Regions from separate parts of the Homo sapiens genome. Here regions 2, 3 and 4 are each linked to region 1. Evidence: fine-mapped expression QTL. A gene starts in region 1. Each other region holds a variant in brackets. All regions are shown on one strand. Distances are between the middles of the regions. Region 1 holds the start of WDR86 (WD repeat domain 86). Region 2 overlaps WDR86 (WD repeat domain 86). Region 3 holds the start of CRYGN (crystallin gamma N). Region 4 overlaps CRYGN (crystallin gamma N).

Region 1 (4,156 bases):
GGGAATGAGCACTCCCTGGCACAAAATGCACCCGCCCCCCAACCCTTCACTTGTTAAACACTGCCCATTTCTTGCTTCTTAAAGCTTAACCATTTCCTCCTACACCCTACCAGGTTCCCTTCCCAAGGTGCCTTCCATTTATAAAGTGATTAGGTCCAGGAGGGCCTGGGCACCACGGGACTCCAGGCCCTCTTGGAGGCTCCAGAAGAGTTAAAGGTGTGAAAGGGGAAGGGAGCCCAGGTTCTGCTGGGGACCCAGCCTGACTCCTGGGTCTCTATAGCTTTGCTATCTTAAGGTGGAGGTTGGGGGAGACCCCAGTTTCAGGGGAATTAGGGGAGACCTCAGTTCCAGGGGAATTCGGTGCTGTTTTCCAATCTACCCAGCTTCTTGTACTCCTGTTAGATCTGGGGGCAATTTCCCAGAGGAGAGTCTGTAATCTACGACCTGCAAGAGAAAAGGGAAGACAGGCTGGCTGAGGACATCTGCACCCACAGCTCTACAGTCCAGACTCAACCCCCAGAGATGGCTGGCTCATCCCCACCAGGGGGCCACTTTGTGCCAAACCGGAGAAGGAGGGGTGGGGGAGGTGGAGAAGCCAAGAACAAAAAATCTATCAACCTGGAAAGAGGAAGTAGGTAAGGTCAGCGGTGTGTGGACTGCAGGCTCCCAAGATGATGGCGCTGGCGCTTCTGAACGCTCTGCCTGCTGGGAGCTGAGCATGGGGCTGATGGCTTGTGTTGGCTGCAGAGGAGAGGAACCAGAGTGCATGGGTGCCACCTTGCTCAGGAATCCTGGGTGACCTCCTTGAAAGTTAAGCTTTTCTCCTGGTGGTTCTTTCCTCTGGCCCACGACCAGGCAAGCTCGCCCAACCTACGATCTGTCCCCAGCTCCCAAACTGCTTTCAAACCCCTCCCCTCTTAGTTTCCAAAAGAGTCGATGCCTGGTTCTCCTTGGCCCCTCTGCCCAGAAAGTTTGGGTTTCCTCTGGCACTTCTCCGGATAAACCCTCCCAGCCTCCATGGTCCTCACATTCACCTTCCCCAAGGGCTGCAGCCGCAGGGCCTGCCCAAGATCCCCACTATACCGAGTCTGTCCTCACCTGGAGGCCACACCGCAGTTTCACACCTGGATGTGCAATGGGCCCCCTGAGGTTCACCGGTTCCTAAGAGGAACTGGTGATCAGCCTGTAGGGGACAAAACAGTCTACCCAGCCTCTCAGCACAAGACAGGCTCCCCGGCCTCTCCCGCCTCGCAGGCATCCAAATGCTGAAGCCTCCACCTCCTGAAAACGTCTCTCCTTTCGGCCTCCCTCTCTCCGGCTGGATGACCCCAAATCTCGTCCTAACGCTCCTCCACTGCCCCTCTCTCCACCACCTGCTAAGGAAGGGCCACGCTCCTTAAGCTGAGGCGCCAGCTGCTTTACAAGTTTTGAGGGAAAAGAACGGATTTCTCTGGTTAGGCCACTCTGGGTATAAACGACCCAACGGCCTGGGACACCCCACGATGGGGTTTTCTTTTGGAGTCTGGATAGAGCAGAGCGTGCAGTACTGGTCGTCCCATTGCGGGCTAGCTCGCCAAAGACGCCCCTTCCTTGCCCTTCTCCCTAGGCTCCTGAGAGAGCCCTGGAGCGTTCTGGAAATCCTGCTACCTTTAGGACCTGGGGGATCCGAGTAGGGGGGTCACCTTCCCCGTCCCCAGCGAAGTCGGCGCCGGAACTGCCCTAATGGAAACCAGCCGCCGGGCGCTCCGGGAGGGCTCAGGCCGACCCCGGGGTCCATTAGAGGCGCCCCAGGCCGAGGGAGCCCGCGGCGGCTGGAAGGTGAACTTGACATCCCGGCTCCACCGACCCCGCAGCGGCTCGCACCTCATCCCCACTCCGGCCAGACCAAAGTAGAATCCTGGGTGTGCGCGTGATTTCCCAGGGAGGGCGGACTCGGGGCTTTCCCTGTCGCACCCTCCATTGGGGGACCGCCCCCAAGTCCCCGAGAGCCCCTCGGGCAGAGTCCTTAGGGCTCAGAGCATGGGAGGACCTGGCTTGCCTGGTGGAGGCGAGTAGCCGAGGGGTCGGTGGAGCTGCGCCCCAAATGAGTTCCCGGCGCGCGATTCTCCCCGACCCCGACCCTTTGTCCGCCTCCCCCTCCCTCGTCCCGGCCCTTGGCTCAGGGGACCCAGGCGGCGGCGGCGGAGGTGGCAGAGGCCAGAGCCCAGAGGCGCAGCCCGGGCAGCTAGGAGGGTCGCACGTGGAGCCGTCCCCCGGACCCGCACAGCGACGAAGGGGGGAGGCTGCAGGCGCGCGGGGTGGGGGCTGGGGCGCAGCCCGAGAAGTGGGAGGGGATCGGGTGAGGGGTGGTCTCTGAGGAGGAGCCAGGCTGGACCGTATTGTTCCGCGCTCGGCCGGGGAGGGCGCGGGGCGCTCGGCTTCCCGTGTTCCTCTCCCCGCCCCAGCCCCGTGGGCGCGAGAGGAGGCGGGGGGCTCCTTGTGCACCAGAGACGCAGCTGCCTTGTTCGCCCGGTGGGGTGTGGATCCTCCGAGCGGTGCTGGGAAGGGGGTTCTCTCTGCCCGCGCGCCCAGGACTCTACCCAGGGCGGAGGTCCCGAGTGGGCCGCCCCCCGCAGCGCCCTGGGTTCGCGGGCCCAGAGGCTGGAGGCAGCGGGGAGCTAGGGTCCTTCACCCTCCCCTCGCCGCGTGCCTCCGCAGGAGTCGGGCTCCCCGTTCCCCGCGATGGCCGCGGGCCGCAGTCGTACGGAGCCGCCGCGCGGACCCCGGGGCGCCCCTCCCTAGCGGGGCGCAGCTCCTTCTTGTTCCCCGCCCTGCCAGCGGGATGGGGGGCGGCGGGTCGGCCCTGAGGGTCTGCGCCGACCACCGCGGGGGCATCAACTGGCTGAGCCTGAGCCCCGACGGGCAGCGCCTGCTGACGGGCAGCGAGGACGGCACGGCCCGGCTCTGGAGCACCGCGGACGGCCAGTGCTGCGCGCTCCTGCAAGGTAGACCCTCCCACTCCCTCCCTGACCTCTTCGCCGCAGCTCACCGGCCCCAGACCGCGGACCCCAGCTCCTGCGCCCGCAGACCCCTTTCTAGAAGTCCAGCCCCCGCTCATCCCGGCACACTAGCGGAAGAGCGCTTGTCTGGGCCCAGCATCTGGCTGTTGAGCGCACGGCAGGGCAGGGTGAGGTCTGGGGGTGGGGTGCGGGTGCAGAGCAGGGTGCGGCCGGGATCGGGTGGGTGGGTCGAGGGGCGTCCGCTACAAAGGCGAAGATCATTTGTCAACCAGCGGCAGGAAATCTCCCTTGACAACAATGTTAACAAACAAAAAGTTGCACCTATACTCCTTCTAAGCAAACCTTCCCTTGTCTCTAGGTGCCTTGTGGCCTCTTTGTGGCCAATTGTGCTCTTCTGCTGGCATTTCCTGTTGACGACTCTCACAGCAACAGTAGACGCTTGTTAAGGGCCAGCGGTGCGGAGAAGTGTGCCGTCGTCACACTATGTTACCCCACATACAGACGTGGAAACAGGCTGGGAGTTAAGTAATTCGCCCAGGTCGCACAGCCAGTGAGGGGTAGATGGCAGTCTGAGCCCTCTCATTGCTGTAAACCCTGCCTGCATGCCTGTTGGTTTCTATTTGTGCCCTGTACTCACTCAGGAGGTCAGTGTGCCTCGGGTGCACCTTCCCCTGGGCCTGTCCCATGCACTGTGAGGTCCCTTTCAGCTCTGGCCCTCCTACTGCCCAGGTAGCACACGTAGTCCCCTGGATGAGCCGCGAGGCTTTCTGCTGTGGGTAGTTCTTTATCACCGCGGGCTTTTCCACCATCATCAGTGAACTCTCTGTGGCCTCGCCCAGGCCTTCCAACTTAGGTAGGATATTAGCCCCAATATTGGCTAATCCTGATACTGCTGGTTTTAAATAAGAACAGTTGACCAGGCTCGGTGGCTCACACTTGTAATCCCAACACTTTGGGAGGCCAAGGTGGGTGGATCACCAGAGGTCAGGAGTTTGAGACCAGCCTGGCCAACATGATGAAACCCTGTGTCTAATAAAAATACAAAAAATTAGCTGGGCGTGGTGGCGGGCGCCTGTAATTCCAACTACTCGGGAGGCTGAGGCAGGAGAATCACTTGAACCCAGGAGGCAGAGGTTGCAGTGAGCCAAGATCGTGCC
Region 2 (4,156 bases), 29 kb after region 1:
CCCGTGCAGCCGGGGCATGGAGCCCGCAGGGAAAGCGAAGCCTGCAGCTCACTGTTGCCCAGCTCGGTTCTTGGTCTTGGCCAGCAAGGCTATGGGATGATCAGACTTTGTTTTTGATCCTCTTCCCACCCGCGGGGAGCTCAGCAGCCACACTGGGTTTTCCAGGCCATGTCCATTTGTCTGAGTTTGTGGGGGGAAGGCAGAAAGGGGCTGAAAAGAGACCCAGAAATGAAACTTCCCCTCTGGGGCCATTCACTCTGTAGTTTTAACAAAAAGGCTGGAACAGGCTGGGCACCGTGGCTCATGCCTGTAATCCCAGCACTTTGGGAAGCCAAGGCGGGAGGATCTCTTGAGCTCAGTAGTTCAAGACCAGCCTGAGCAACATAGCAAGACCCTGTCTCTACAAACATTTTTTTTTTTTTTTTTTTGAGACGGAGTCTTGCTCTGTGGCCCAGGCTGGAGTGAAATGGCGCAGTCTAGGCTCACTGCCACCTCCACTTCCCAGATTCAAGTGATTCTCCTGCCTCAGCCTCCTAAGTAACTGGGACTACAGGTGTGTGCCACCACACCCAGCTAATTTTTGTATTTTTAGTAGAGACAGGGTTTCACCATGTTGGCCAGGCTGGTCTCAAACCCCTGATCTCATGATCTGCTCTGCCAGCTTCAGCTTCCCAAAGTGCTGAGATTACAGGCGTGAGCCACTGTGCCCAGCTCCCCCCCCCCACCCCGCCGCCCCGTTTTTTTTAAAATTAGCTGGGTGTAGTGGTGCATGCCTGTGGTCCCAGCTGCTCAGGAGGCTGAAGCGGGAGGATCGTTTGAGCCCAGGAGTTCAAGGTTAACAGTGAGCTAAGATGGTACCACTGCACTCCAGCCTCGGCAACAGAGTGAGACCCTGTCTCCCTGTAAGAAAAAAAAAAAAAAAGGCTGGGGAACAAGTACCCACAGAGCACCCTCAGATAGATAGGTAGCCCAGCACCCTTACCCTCAGGTGGTCCTACCCCTTTTCCCCAAGGTCCCTGGCAGGCTTGCACCATAGCTGCCCACCGTAGTTACCTGCTCATTGACAGACCCCACAGGACTTCCTCCCTCCCTTTCCATCTCCCATTTCCCTGTGAGCGTTTCCTGGGACGCCTGCCAGGTGAACTGTCTGCATCAAGTCCTAGCATCAGGGTCGGCTTCGGAGAGCCCAGCCTAGGCCAAGTGAGTTCTTCTAGTCCACATCCTCAGTGTGGCCTCCTGACTAGCAGCAGCATCACTTAAAACTGGTTAGAAATGCCGATTCTCAGGCCCCGCCTGCTAAATCAGATTCTGGGATGCGGCCCCGCGATCTGTGGCTAAGACCTCCAAGTGACGGATGCAAATGCAGGTTGCAGTTGGAAAACGATTGGACTGAAATCTTAGGAGAAACCCCAGGGAGAGGCAGCCACCTGGGGGAGGAGACAGACTGAGGTCGGAGGCTCGCCCCCGCTAGGGGTCCCGGGGGTGCGTGATCATGAACCCCAGAGGGCTGGGCTTTGATTTGAGTGCCGATCCGTTAATGAGGACGGGAGGATAAGGTTGCCGACGCAGCGGAAGGTAGGGGGGAAGCGACTCGAGGACCTGACGATTATCCCCAGGCAGGGGCTTCCCAAGCAGGCACGGAAACCAACTTCACCAAACCGCGGAGTGGGGACTGGGCCCGGGCGGTGTTCAGCAGGGCAGGGGCAGGGCCAGCTGGCGCGCAGGCATCTGCAGGGTGGAGCAGAATAACCGTGGGGACCCGTTTCTCTGGAGGGGCACTGTCCACTTCCCATATGAGCCTCAGGATACCCCCGTGGGGCGGAGTCTCGGAGACGCCCCAGGTCACGCTCTCGCCGCCCCATCCCTGCTTGCGGGGGGCCGAGCAGGGAGGGAGGCCCAGCGCGCGCTGTGTGTCCGCAGTGTTCACGGGCAGCGGGGACGCTTGCGCCCGGGCCTTCGACGCGCAGTCTGGAGAGCTGCGGAGGGTGTTCCGGGGCCACACATTCATCATCAACTGCATCCAGGTAGGTCCCTCTGCCCTTCTCGGGGCCGCCGCCCGTGGGAGGGAAGGTGCCCCGCCCCGATCCATCCACGCGGGCAGCGGTGTCCCCCCCGCCTACCGCGTCACCGGTGACGCCCGCC[C/T]CTGCGCCCGCAGGTGCACGGCCAGGTGCTCTACACCGCCTCGCACGACGGCGCCCTGCGCCTCTGGGACGTGCGCGGGCTCCGAGGTGCCCCGCGGCCCCCTCCGCCCATGCGCAGCCTCTCGCGGCTCTTCAGCAACAAGGTGGGCTGCGCCGCCGCGCCCCTGCAGCCGGCCTGATCCCGCGGGGCCCCTGCAGACGCCAGCCCAGACACCCAGCGGCTCCCAGAGCGCCCCGCCCTGCTACCCGCGGTGGTGGCGCCCGATGGCCGGCGAGGGGCGAGGAGCGAGGAAGCCCGGGCGGGAGGAGAGCCCGTCGCAGGCGTCTGGTTTTTCTTTGGTGGCCAGGAGGCGCTGGGAGCGGGAGTGCTCGCCCTGGGGACCGCCCCCTTTTCCCTTTTAGGGTGGCTCCTGTCCTCCCTCCCCATCCCTGACCTGGCGAAAGGCCTAGTCCTGGGGACCCTCCCACCTCAGGGGCTGCAGGCGGACTGCCCCAGCTCCCCCAGCCCCACGAAACTGGGCCTTTCCTGCTGAGAGGAAGTGACTTTTTACAGAAGCCACTGAACCTGGTTATTTTGGCAAATCGTCCGTCTCGAGGGCCTTGGGGGGAACTGAAATATACAGCCTGAACGTTAAAAGTGCTCCTGTGTCCTCTTTTTGTTTTGCAAACTGAGTCTCAGCTTCTTTTTGGAGCTTGGGATTCCAGGAACCCAGGGCGGCGGGCCTCCTGCCCTCTGCCTCTCACAACCGGCCTGGGCAGCCTTGGGGGTGACTTGTGGGTGCGCTGCGGGGCTGCCCCCAGTGTCACTGGTGCAGGAAGTGGATGGGGAAGAGGCCGGGGAGCAAGGGAGGAGCTCTTTAGCCTGTGCAGGTGACAGCGGGGACCCTGCTTGGGAGCAGGGTCATTTTCTGGCATGTCATTTTCTGGCATGAATCTAGGAAGTCCGTTCAGGGCCTGGAGTGGAAGGAGGGGTGGGGGCGGGCAGCAGCCCCACCCCGGGCTCGTGCACAGGAGCCAGGGCAGCGCCTGGTGCTGGAAGGCGCAACACACATGCCAGAGCCACCGGGCACCCAAGGGGAGCCCTGTGCCCAGGGGCTCGAGGGGCCAGTGGGGCTCAGTCTGCCGAGGGGCCCTGCAGGAGACCCCTCAGCACCCCTCACAGCACCTGAGCGGGGTGCTCTTCAGTCCCTTGATGGTGCCACTTTCTGCATCCATGTGCCCCGGTTGGCCCGGGTGCCAGGAGAGAAGCTGCAGGTGACAGTGTCTGCCGTGGAGAGCTCATCATCTCGCTGCAGAGAGAAGCACCTGCTGCAGGAGCAGCCCCTTCAAGTGGAGCAGCCCCTTCAAGTGGAGCAGCCCTTTCAGGTAGAGCAGCATGCGCTTCATAGTCTTAATGCAGAAGATACTTCATCAGAGACGGCCGGGGCCGCCAGGGATCACCTGCTAGGTGATGGGCGGGTCCGCCCTCGGGCGCGGATGAACAGGTAGGGATTGCACTGTGGGCAGTAGGAAGGAAAGGACGCAGGCGCTGTAACTCCTCTAGGCCAAACCTCCAAACCCTGGGAACCAAAGTGCCCCCGACCCCCACCCCAGGAAAATGGGCCTGTTGGGAGGCAAGCAGATCGGTGCAGGAGAACCCGCAGAAACGGCACCATGCACTGTTCTCCGGGTGAGACTTAAGCACACACAGACCTCGGGGGTGGCCAGGTCTTGCTGCGTCCCGGAGCCATTGGGGCCTGTGGCTGCCACAAGGGGCATACCTACCAGAGAGGACCTTTCCATCGTGCTGAAGGGACGGTTCCGGTGGCGCAGGCCAGAGAACCGCCTTGAGTGCTGCCTGCGGGCAGTGCTGCCGGCCGGCCCTGAGCCTGCACAGACGTTCACACTGACTCCTGCTTGCCGAAGACACTGCTGCTTGGTGATGCTGCGCTCTGGCCTGAGCAGCCCCTCACTGACACGTCAGCTCCAGTCCCCACCTTATCTCCCCACAGCAGAGAATGGAGCATGCATCAAGC
Region 3 (4,156 bases), 31 kb before region 1:
AGTAAAAAGAAATGAGAGACTAGGCCAGGAAAAGATATGAGGGAATCTTAAATGCATATTACTAAGTGGAAGAAACCAATCTGAGAAAGCTACTTGCTGTCTTAGTCCGTTTTGTGCCGCTATAACAGAATACCACAGACTGGGTAATTTACAATGAACACAAATGTACTGGCTCACAGTTCTGGAGGCTGAGAAGTCTAACATCACGGTGCTGGCATCTTTCAAGGGCCTTCTTGCTGTATCATCCCATGGGAGAAGGGCAAAGAGAGGGTGAGAGAGAGCAAGCGGTTGACCTTGTAGCCCTTTATGGTCAGCGTTAATCCATGAATGAGGGTGAAGCCCTCATGACCTAAACCCTTCCCATGAGACCGCATCTTTCAACATTGTTGCATTGGGGATTAAGTTTCCAACACATGTGTTTTGGGGGACACGTTCAAACCGTAGTAGCTACATACTGTAAGATTCCAAATACATGACATCCTGAAAAAGGCAAAACCGTGAAGATAGTAAAAAGATCAGTGGTTGCCAGGAGTTAAGGGGGAGAGAGGGATAAACAGATGGAGCCCAGGGGACTTTTTTTTTTATCTTTTTTTTTTTTTTTTTGAGACGGAGTTTAACTCTGTCGTCCAGGCTGGAGTGCAGTGGCGCAATCTTGGCTCACTACAACCTCCACCTTCCAGGTTCAAGCAATTCTCACTGCCTCAGCCTCCTGAGTAGCTAGGATTACAGGCGCCTGCCACCACGCCTGGCTAGTTTTTGTATTTTTAGTAGAGACAGGGTTTCGCCCTGTTGGCCAGGCTGGTCTCAAACTCCTGACCTTAGGTGATCCACCCGCCCCGGCCTCCCAAAGTGCTGGGATTACAGGTGTGAGCCGCCGTGCCCAGCCCACACAGGGGACTTTTAAGGTGGTGAGAATACTCTACCTGGTGCTCTAATGGTGGAACCATGGCATTACACTGTAGAGGCAGCAAAGTTCTACCTCCATCCTCTTAGGGTCCTGGCTGGGCCTGAGAAATAAATTGACCTAAGACAGATTAACAAGAGAAAAGCATACAAACTTATTTAATACAAGTTTTATGTGGCATGGGAGCCCTTATAAGGAGATGAAGACCCAAAGAAAAAGTTAAGAGTCAAACACTTACATACTCAACTGGACAAAGAGTAGCAAGCTGTGAAAAATCAACCACATTATGTGGGGAGGCTTTAAAAATGTGTTATTTTAACAAAGTCTACGCCGCATTCTCTCAACTTCTCATCCTGTATCCCGATGTATAACATAGGTTCATCGGCTGTGACAAATGTACCACTCTAATGGGGGCGCTGATTGTGGAGGAGGCTCTGTGTGTGTGTGTGTGTGTGTGTGTGTGTGTGTGTGTGTGTGTGTAGGGGCAGGGGGTATACAGGAAATTGCTGTACCTTTTGCTGAATTCAACTTGAACCTAAAGCTGCTCTAAAAAATAAAACCTTTTTTTAAGGCTTATTTTTCCCTGTTGAAAATAAGGGAAGAGGCTTCCCTTTCCTCCCTTTTCTTGCAGAATTTCCTTCTCTGTCATTTTCAAATGTGTGTAAATCTTTTTAATGGCTAAACAAGCCTCTTGCCAGTCTAACAACTCAGTCATGTTTCCTCTGGGAGCCTCTTTGAGTCTTGACATCAAGGAGTAAGTGCCCCCACCCTCCCCGTTTCCT[A/G]AGAAGCCTGACTTCAGCTGTCACCTGACTCCAAATTGCAAAACCCACCTCCAGTCATAGAGATACAAGAAAATCAGCAATTTTATCCTGAAAACATGAATGCAGTGGGTTGTGTCTGCTTGGCTACAGAAGAGTGAGATCTCTCTCCATCTTTGCGATCTCTTAGGGGAGAGATCGTGATGCAGATCGCATTCCAGTTTAAAGTTTATTCAATAATAAAATTGTTTTTTTTTCCTTCTACCTTCGTGGAGAAGTTTTCTGGGTTGGCTGGAGATTTTGTTTTTAATTTTATGTCCCCACCAGGGCCCAGGTCCAGAGAGAAACATTGGAATGTGTGGCTTGGCAAGTAAGGGCGCCAGTGGAGGCAGCTGGGCGGCGTCCCTAGGGAGGGGCGTCCCTAGGGAGGACCGTCCCTGGGTTCAAGGGTGACATGCAGGTTCTGGTTTGTACCCTGTCTACTTTTGAAAACCTCCCACAGCAGAGGCAAGGTCACCCCTCTGCCCCAAGAATCACATAACCTCCTCTTCCTGGGCCTCAGTGTCTCATCTGTGAAATGGTCATAAAAATATACTGTTTGAAGGAAGAGCAGCCCAAACTCCTCCCCAAAGCTCCTCCCTCCCCTCCAGCAGAAGCCCCTGTGGAGCACCTGCCCCTCTCTCCTTTGATCTCAGAGCCTGTCCCCCACCACCCCAGCCATCTGAGTCATGAGTCCTGTGTTCCCAGCTCATCTCCCCAGCCGTGTGGGGGCTGCACATCCTGTGGGCTCCATGTTCGCTCTGCTCACTCCACAATCTCTGAGCCTCTGCTGTCTGCCAAGTGCTCGTTCTGGGCCCTGGGGAACTCTCCCTCCGCGGTGGGGCTGCTTTGTGCTGTAAACTGATCCTGGGCGTCCAGGGTGGCTTAGTTGGTGCAGCAGAGAGGCAAGGGGCAGAGCACTGTACCCCCAGCTCAGGGCAGCGCGGGTCACCTGGTCACCCTAGGCAGGATCTTCAAGGAGAGAGGGACCCAGGGAGGGAGAGTGCCAGGGAGGGAGGCAGGCAGGAAGAGAGCGGGAGGAGGGAGGCCTGACCTGGCCTGGCGTTTTGTGGGGTGTGGGGGGGTGCATCAGGAGCTGGGTGAGTTGGAGCCGGAGGTCTAAGGTGGGGACCTGGGAGCTCAGACCAGAGCAGCCAGGGGAGGGGCGGTCAAGGGCTGTCTGTCTGTCCGGGGAAGCTTGGGTTGCATCCTCGTGGAGACAAACAAGTTGGCACCAAGGCGAGACTACCTGCAGCCAGGTGAGAAAGGGGAGTGGGCTGGGGAGCTCGGAACAGGCCTTGGGAGGGAGGGAGATGGGCGTGAGGGCTGAGGGGCAGCGCAGGGGAAGAAAGGTTGGAGGGCTAGAGAGACACCTCCCCTCCTCCCCCCACCACTCCAGGGCAGGGCAGGGGCAGCCGCGGGCTGGGCGGGAGGGCTCAGGGAGGAAGGAGGCTCGGGAGCTAAACGCGGAGAGCACAGGGAGACCCCGGGCAGGGCGGGCTGCACTCGCGGTGGCACAGGGTGGCCGCGGCGGGTCCCAACCGCCTGGTGGCCCCTCGGGCTTAGCACGCCCGACAGCACTAACGCTCCGGGGCCGGCCCAGCAAATCTTTTGTCCGGGGCGGCGCTGAGCCAGCAGGGCGCTGCCCGGTGTAAACGGGGACCCGCGGAAGGGGCGGGGCGCACCATGGCGCAGCGCTCGGGGAAGGTGAGTGCGTCCCTCAACCCCAAGGAAACCGAGTGGGGCTCCGCCTTCGCCCCCTGTGCTAGGGGATGCAGGAGGGTGCACACTGTTGATGGTGACAAATCCAAGGGAAGCTGGTTTAATTTCTTAATAAAATGGGGTGGCCTCGCTACTGGCCTGGGGCCTCTCTGGTGTGGATGGATAGGAAGGTCTCCATCTCCACTCCTTCCTTCTGGGATTCCAACCCCTCGCCCTGCAGTCAGGAGCAGGGAGGGTGTTCAGACTCCCTGGGGCTTCCTTGGGGTGGGGGAGGCTTGGCTTGTCCCACAGCCCTCCGCCCCACTGCTGCGGCTTCTTTGCCCAAGGCTGGCCTCTATGGCTTTTCCTTCCCAGGGTCTCTTCAGGGACACTTAGGGCTGGTTCTCTGAAAAATGTTGAGATTTGAGGGAGCCCCGAATCCCTTTGGTGCCCAGACCTCCCTGAAGGTTTCAGGGGCCCTCTACCAGCCGTGCCTGGTGCAGGAAGGACGGGAGACCTGGCTCTCCCTCGCCCTCTCCAGTGCCCCTAGCCTAGCCACTCCCATGAAGCCTTTGGTCTCCAAGGCCACATTCCAGAGTGTCTGGGGGTGACTGTGTTGCTGTATCAGTCTGCATGGGCCAGGTGATGCTTCAGTAACAAAGGGCCCCAGTAACTCTGGGGTGCAGAACGCCAAGGTGTCTGCCTCCTTTCCGGTGAACGCATGTGGCCACGCCTGACTCCAAGGGGCCTGGAA
Region 4 (4,156 bases), 19 kb before region 1:
CCCAGGGTCTCTGTGTCTGATCTCTGGGTTTTATCCTCATGGCTAATCTTGGCCTCGGAGTTTCTAAGGGAGACCCCTCTGGAAGGATGGTTTCGACCCAGGGCAGACCCCTCTCCTGCGAGAGAGAAAACAGTTAGTGGTGGTGAGTGTCAGGGTGGGGGCTTAGCTTGAACAGGTGGGCTCTGTGGGAATGGAGGGGCTTTCGGGGAGAAAGGGGCATGGGGCGTGTCTGCTGCAGCCATAGCCCCTGGAGCAGTAGGGCTGGCAGACCCAGAACCGGCGGCTCGCGTCTTCAGCTGGTGCAGCACCAAGCGCTCGCCTGTAGAATTCCTCCATTCCTGGGCCCTCTCCAGGACACTGGGTCCTCCTGTTGGGGTGGGCTTGAATCTAGAGGGGACACCCCACCCTTGAGGGGCAGAGGGGAGGGAGAAGTCTGTCCTGGAAGGAGATACTCGGCCCAGGCAGTGGGATTCCTGGGCATAAGAGGTCCACGTCCCCAAAAGCATCCCCCCACTCCCTCCCCACCCACGCCTATGCTTCCAACTCACTGGGGAGAGAGGAAAGGTCCCACGAGGGGAACTCTGGTCCCTGGGGGTGGCCCAGGTAACTCCCTGCTGCCGGCAGCCCTCCAGCAGAGTCCTGAATGGAGCCTGCCTGTGAGGAAACCATAGCCCACCCCAGAAGGAGGCAACAGATGGAGTGCTCTGGGCTTCTGAGGAGAACACAGGGGCCCTGGACCCGAGATTCCTGAGCATGGGGGCTCCTGGACATGGAGACCCCAAAGATGTCCACATGGCCTGTGCCTGGACCAAGGCCTGGCTGGATGAGGGATCAGTGGGGGGCCAGGTGCATGGGTTGGATCACCCGTGTGCCCACAGAGTTCTGGCTGTGGATCTGACTCCTGGTCCAGCCTCTAATCCCCGACTGCGATCCCAGAGTCCCCCCAACCAACTGGCTCCCGACTGGCCTCTCAGTTCCCGGGTCCTCCTCACCATACATCTTACTCCAGTTTTCTGAGTAGATGGAGGGGTTTGGACTGGGGATCAGCCCCTCTAGGCTGGTCGCCCAGCTCAGGACTCCGAGGGAAAGCCCATGAGCCCTGGGTTACTATCTGAGTTGAACTGAGACACCCCGACAGGCCTAGGGGGTGATGGAGTACGGCAGGGAGCTCAGCGAGGGAACACAGGGTTCCCGAGAGAAAAACAAAATCTCAGGGGCTGATTCTGTCGCACAGTGTGGTGGCCTGAGTGTGGTGGGCCAGGGGATGGCTGTCCCGTTCCTGGGTGTCCTCCAACCTCTCCCCATCCCTCACTGAGAGAGCAATGGAAAAAGAGTCACGATGGGTCACCCAATTCACCCAAGACAATTCCCCACCAAGAGCTGGGTGGCAAAGACGGAGGGGCCCCATGACTGCTGTGGGACCCCCGTAGGCTGTCCCATGACAGCCGAGGCCAAATGAAGACATGAAACCACTAGGCAACCGTCCACTCCGCCCAGGAAAGGGGAAGGGGCTCCCTGCTGCCATGTGGTAGATGGGTCCCCAAAAGGCCTGCTCTGTACCCCTAATGCCCTGGCCCCACCTCCTTTCACCTGCAAACCACAGAGCATGGAGCCCTAGAAGCTTCGGAGCTGAGGACTTCCAGCTGAGCAGCTCTCTTCAATCAGATCAAGGACCGGAAGAGGCCAC[C/A]ACAAAACCAGCAACAACCCAGCCACCTTTCCTGACTGCAAACCTCTGAGCCTGGAACCGATTGACATGTAAATGCACCTGCACCGTTTCTGAGCCGGGAGAGTGTTTACTTAAAATCATGCCCTCAGTTTTCATTTCTCTGCCAGTTTGTTAGGGAGGTGGAGCCTTCTGTGTGTCATATCTGCCAGCGGGAGGCCCTCCCCACCCATGGCAAGGGCCCTGTCTCTTCTGAAACAGCCGTCCAACCCTCCACCCCACAGCCTCCTTGGGCCTTGGCACCCTGCTGGCCTCAGGCCTCCACAATCTCGCACCTCAGCCCACAGCTGATGATGGTGATGATGTTGATGAATATTTATGGAGCACTGACTTAATGCCAGGCTCTGTAGTAGCTGGAATCTGTGTAATTTTACTTATCATATACAATAATGCCAAGATGATATGCTTATCACCACTGTACAGTTGAGGAGAGCCAGCCACAGACAGGTTAAGCAACTTGCCCAGGGTCACACAGCAGTCAGGACTAAAACCCAGGTCTGGCTGGCTGATTGATCCTTTTCGTTCCTAACCACTCCTCTATAGAGCACCACACATTTGCATATTTAGATATATTTTTGTCATGAATTTGGCGCAAACCCAAAGCCTCTCCAGGCCTCAGACCCTGTTCTGTGAAATGAGTGCAATCATGTCTGCTGTACCAACTGTATACCCTTGTAAAAGCCAAAGGCGTGACCCATGAGCGGGTGCCATATGAGGGCTGGTTAGTAGTAGGTGACCCAGTAGGTGACGGGGTGGGGAAGCAGGCAGGGGAGTGGCATCACAGGAGAGAAGGTAACTTGGCTCCAAACTCCAACCTGATTCCCACTCCATCCCTCACTAGGATGTGACATTGGAGAAGCCACTGCTGTGTGTCTCAGTGTCTTCAGACGTACAGCAGTGGTAATCATTCCGCCCCCTCATAGGCAATTAATGCCTGGGGAATGAAATGAGAACTGCAGGCCCCACCGGTTCAGTCCAGGTCCTTGGGAGTCACGGGAAAAACCAGGCCTAGCAGCCCTTCCCATGAGTTCCAGAGGCTTCCCCTGAACTCTTCCTCTCCTCCCCAGCACCAAGGCTTAGCAGCATCTCATTAACTGGTGATTTAATGCTTCTCGAATGGGCTTTGTGCTCCTGGGTGACCTCCCCCTCACCCCAGCCCCCTGCTCCCTAATCTGTCAGCAAATCTGCTTTTTGTCTGAAAGAGGAAAAACAAGATTCCCACCAAAGTGCTTGTGGGCAGCTTGTAATTTATCTGAAGTCCGTCCAGGGGTCGATGGACCGAGGGTGAGAGGCCCTCAAGAGCCACACATGCTTCACATATTTCTACCTCCCTCTGTGGTTTGGAAAGCTGGGACTTTCACAGAGCCATCCCCTCATGTCCTCAGCCCTAGGTCCCCCTGCCCTGCTGGCCCCCCGTGCACTGTTTATCAGGCCCAGTCTGACCACAGGAAAAACATTCCCTTTGAATCCCCCCAGCCACCCCATCCCCCGCACCAAGAAGTTCCTCTCACCAGCCAAGGGCTGGTCCAAGAAGTCTCTGTTGGCCCCTTCCCCTTCCTGGGCCTCCCTCCCATGCCCCGAGGTGGCCTGCGCCTGGCAGGCTACCGCCTTCTTGGCTGGAGGCTTCTTGGCTCACCTCTTCACCCCACTGGGTGCCTTAAGAGCAGGGCTGTCCTGCCTGTGTTCCCCCCAGGAAGCCACAACAGATCTTCAATCAAAGCCTGTTGGATGAGTTTGAGCCCAGGGACGTCAAAAAAAAAAAAAAAAAAAGAAGAAAGAAAAAGACAAACTAACAAAAAACTTGTCAAATGAGACAGTTTTAAAGGTTTAGCTCCAGAGTTTCAGTTTGTGAAGATGACAGACTTCTGGAGACAGACAGATGGTGCTGACGGCCGCACGACTATGTGTGTGTACTTAATGCCACTCAACCACACACTTCAAATGGTTAGGATGATAAATTGTATGTGTATTTTGCCATAATCAAAAAAAATTAACTCCTTGTTGCTGAGGTGCTCAGGACTGTTGGGGGCAATGTGGGAATGAAGGCCCTCGCTGGATCCCAGGGAACCCTGTGGGTCTCCTGTGCGACCATGCCCCACATTCCCTACCTGAAGAAGCTATCACCTGCTTATTGATTGCGTGGGTCCCATCGGCTTGGCAGGGCTCTTGGCTGTGGCTGCTGGGGAGGCTGAGATGCAGGAGGAGGAAGAGGAGGAGGAGGAGAAGGTCCTTGTCCTTCAGCAGGGATCCCTGGAGCGTCCCTGTGGTTACCTGGGACTAACCCTGCCTTCCGGACCCCCAGGACTTAGTAGCCCAGGTCTGGGGACACCAGGAAGGGGTGACTTGGGCAGCCTGCCCTGAACAGCGAGCATTTGTGTGAACAGGCTCCTGGCTTCCTTGCCTGTGGACAGCCCGCTTTGGAATTGTGATTTA

What was found.
Region 2: its variant is fine-mapped to the expression of WDR86 in whole blood (TOPMed, PIP above 0.99).
Region 3: its variant is fine-mapped to the expression of WDR86 in whole blood (TOPMed, PIP above 0.99). The same link has a PIP of 0.9 or more in blood mononuclear cells.
Region 4: its variant is fine-mapped to the expression of WDR86 in whole blood (TOPMed, PIP above 0.99).

What each region holds. Positions count from the first base shown.
Region 1 is chr7:151,408,255-151,412,410 of GRCh38, reverse strand. It overlaps WDR86 (WD repeat domain 86), which reads left to right and starts at 2,373. Exons shown (of 6, transcript NM_198285.3): 1 at 2,373-2,984. The coding sequence starts at 2,822. It overlaps WDR86-AS1 (WDR86 antisense RNA 1), which reads right to left and starts at 3,250. Exons shown (of 6, transcript NR_109857.1): 1 at 3,029-3,250; 2 at 1,099-1,183; 3 at 619-741; 4 at 341-444. RefSeq lists an enhancer at 1,175-1,807.
Region 2 is chr7:151,379,746-151,383,901 of GRCh38, reverse strand. WDR86 (WD repeat domain 86) reads left to right here. Exons shown (of 6, transcript NM_198285.3): 5 at 1,921-2,024; 6 at 2,156-2,778. The coding sequence ends at 2,320. Among named protein-coding and RNA genes, the nearest start is that of WDR86-AS1, 27 kb to the left of the region's middle. RefSeq lists silencers at 2,116-2,355, 2,376-2,535. The variant C/T (reference allele first, on the strand shown) is at 2,143.
Region 3 is chr7:151,439,149-151,443,304 of GRCh38, reverse strand. It overlaps CRYGN (crystallin gamma N), which reads left to right and starts at 3,164. Exons shown (of 4, transcript NM_144727.3): 1 at 3,164-3,408. The coding sequence starts at 3,388. RefSeq lists enhancers at 2,136-2,672, 3,384-3,884, 3,885-4,156. The variant A/G (reference allele first, on the strand shown) is at 1,687.
Region 4 is chr7:151,427,628-151,431,783 of GRCh38, reverse strand. CRYGN (crystallin gamma N) reads left to right here. Exons shown (of 4, transcript NM_144727.3): 4 at 1,604-2,952. The coding sequence ends at 1,736. Among named protein-coding and RNA genes, the nearest start is that of MIR3907, 3.9 kb to the left of the region's middle. RefSeq lists enhancers at 1,387-1,586, 1,907-1,976, 2,754-3,273. The variant C/A (reference allele first, on the strand shown) is at 1,688.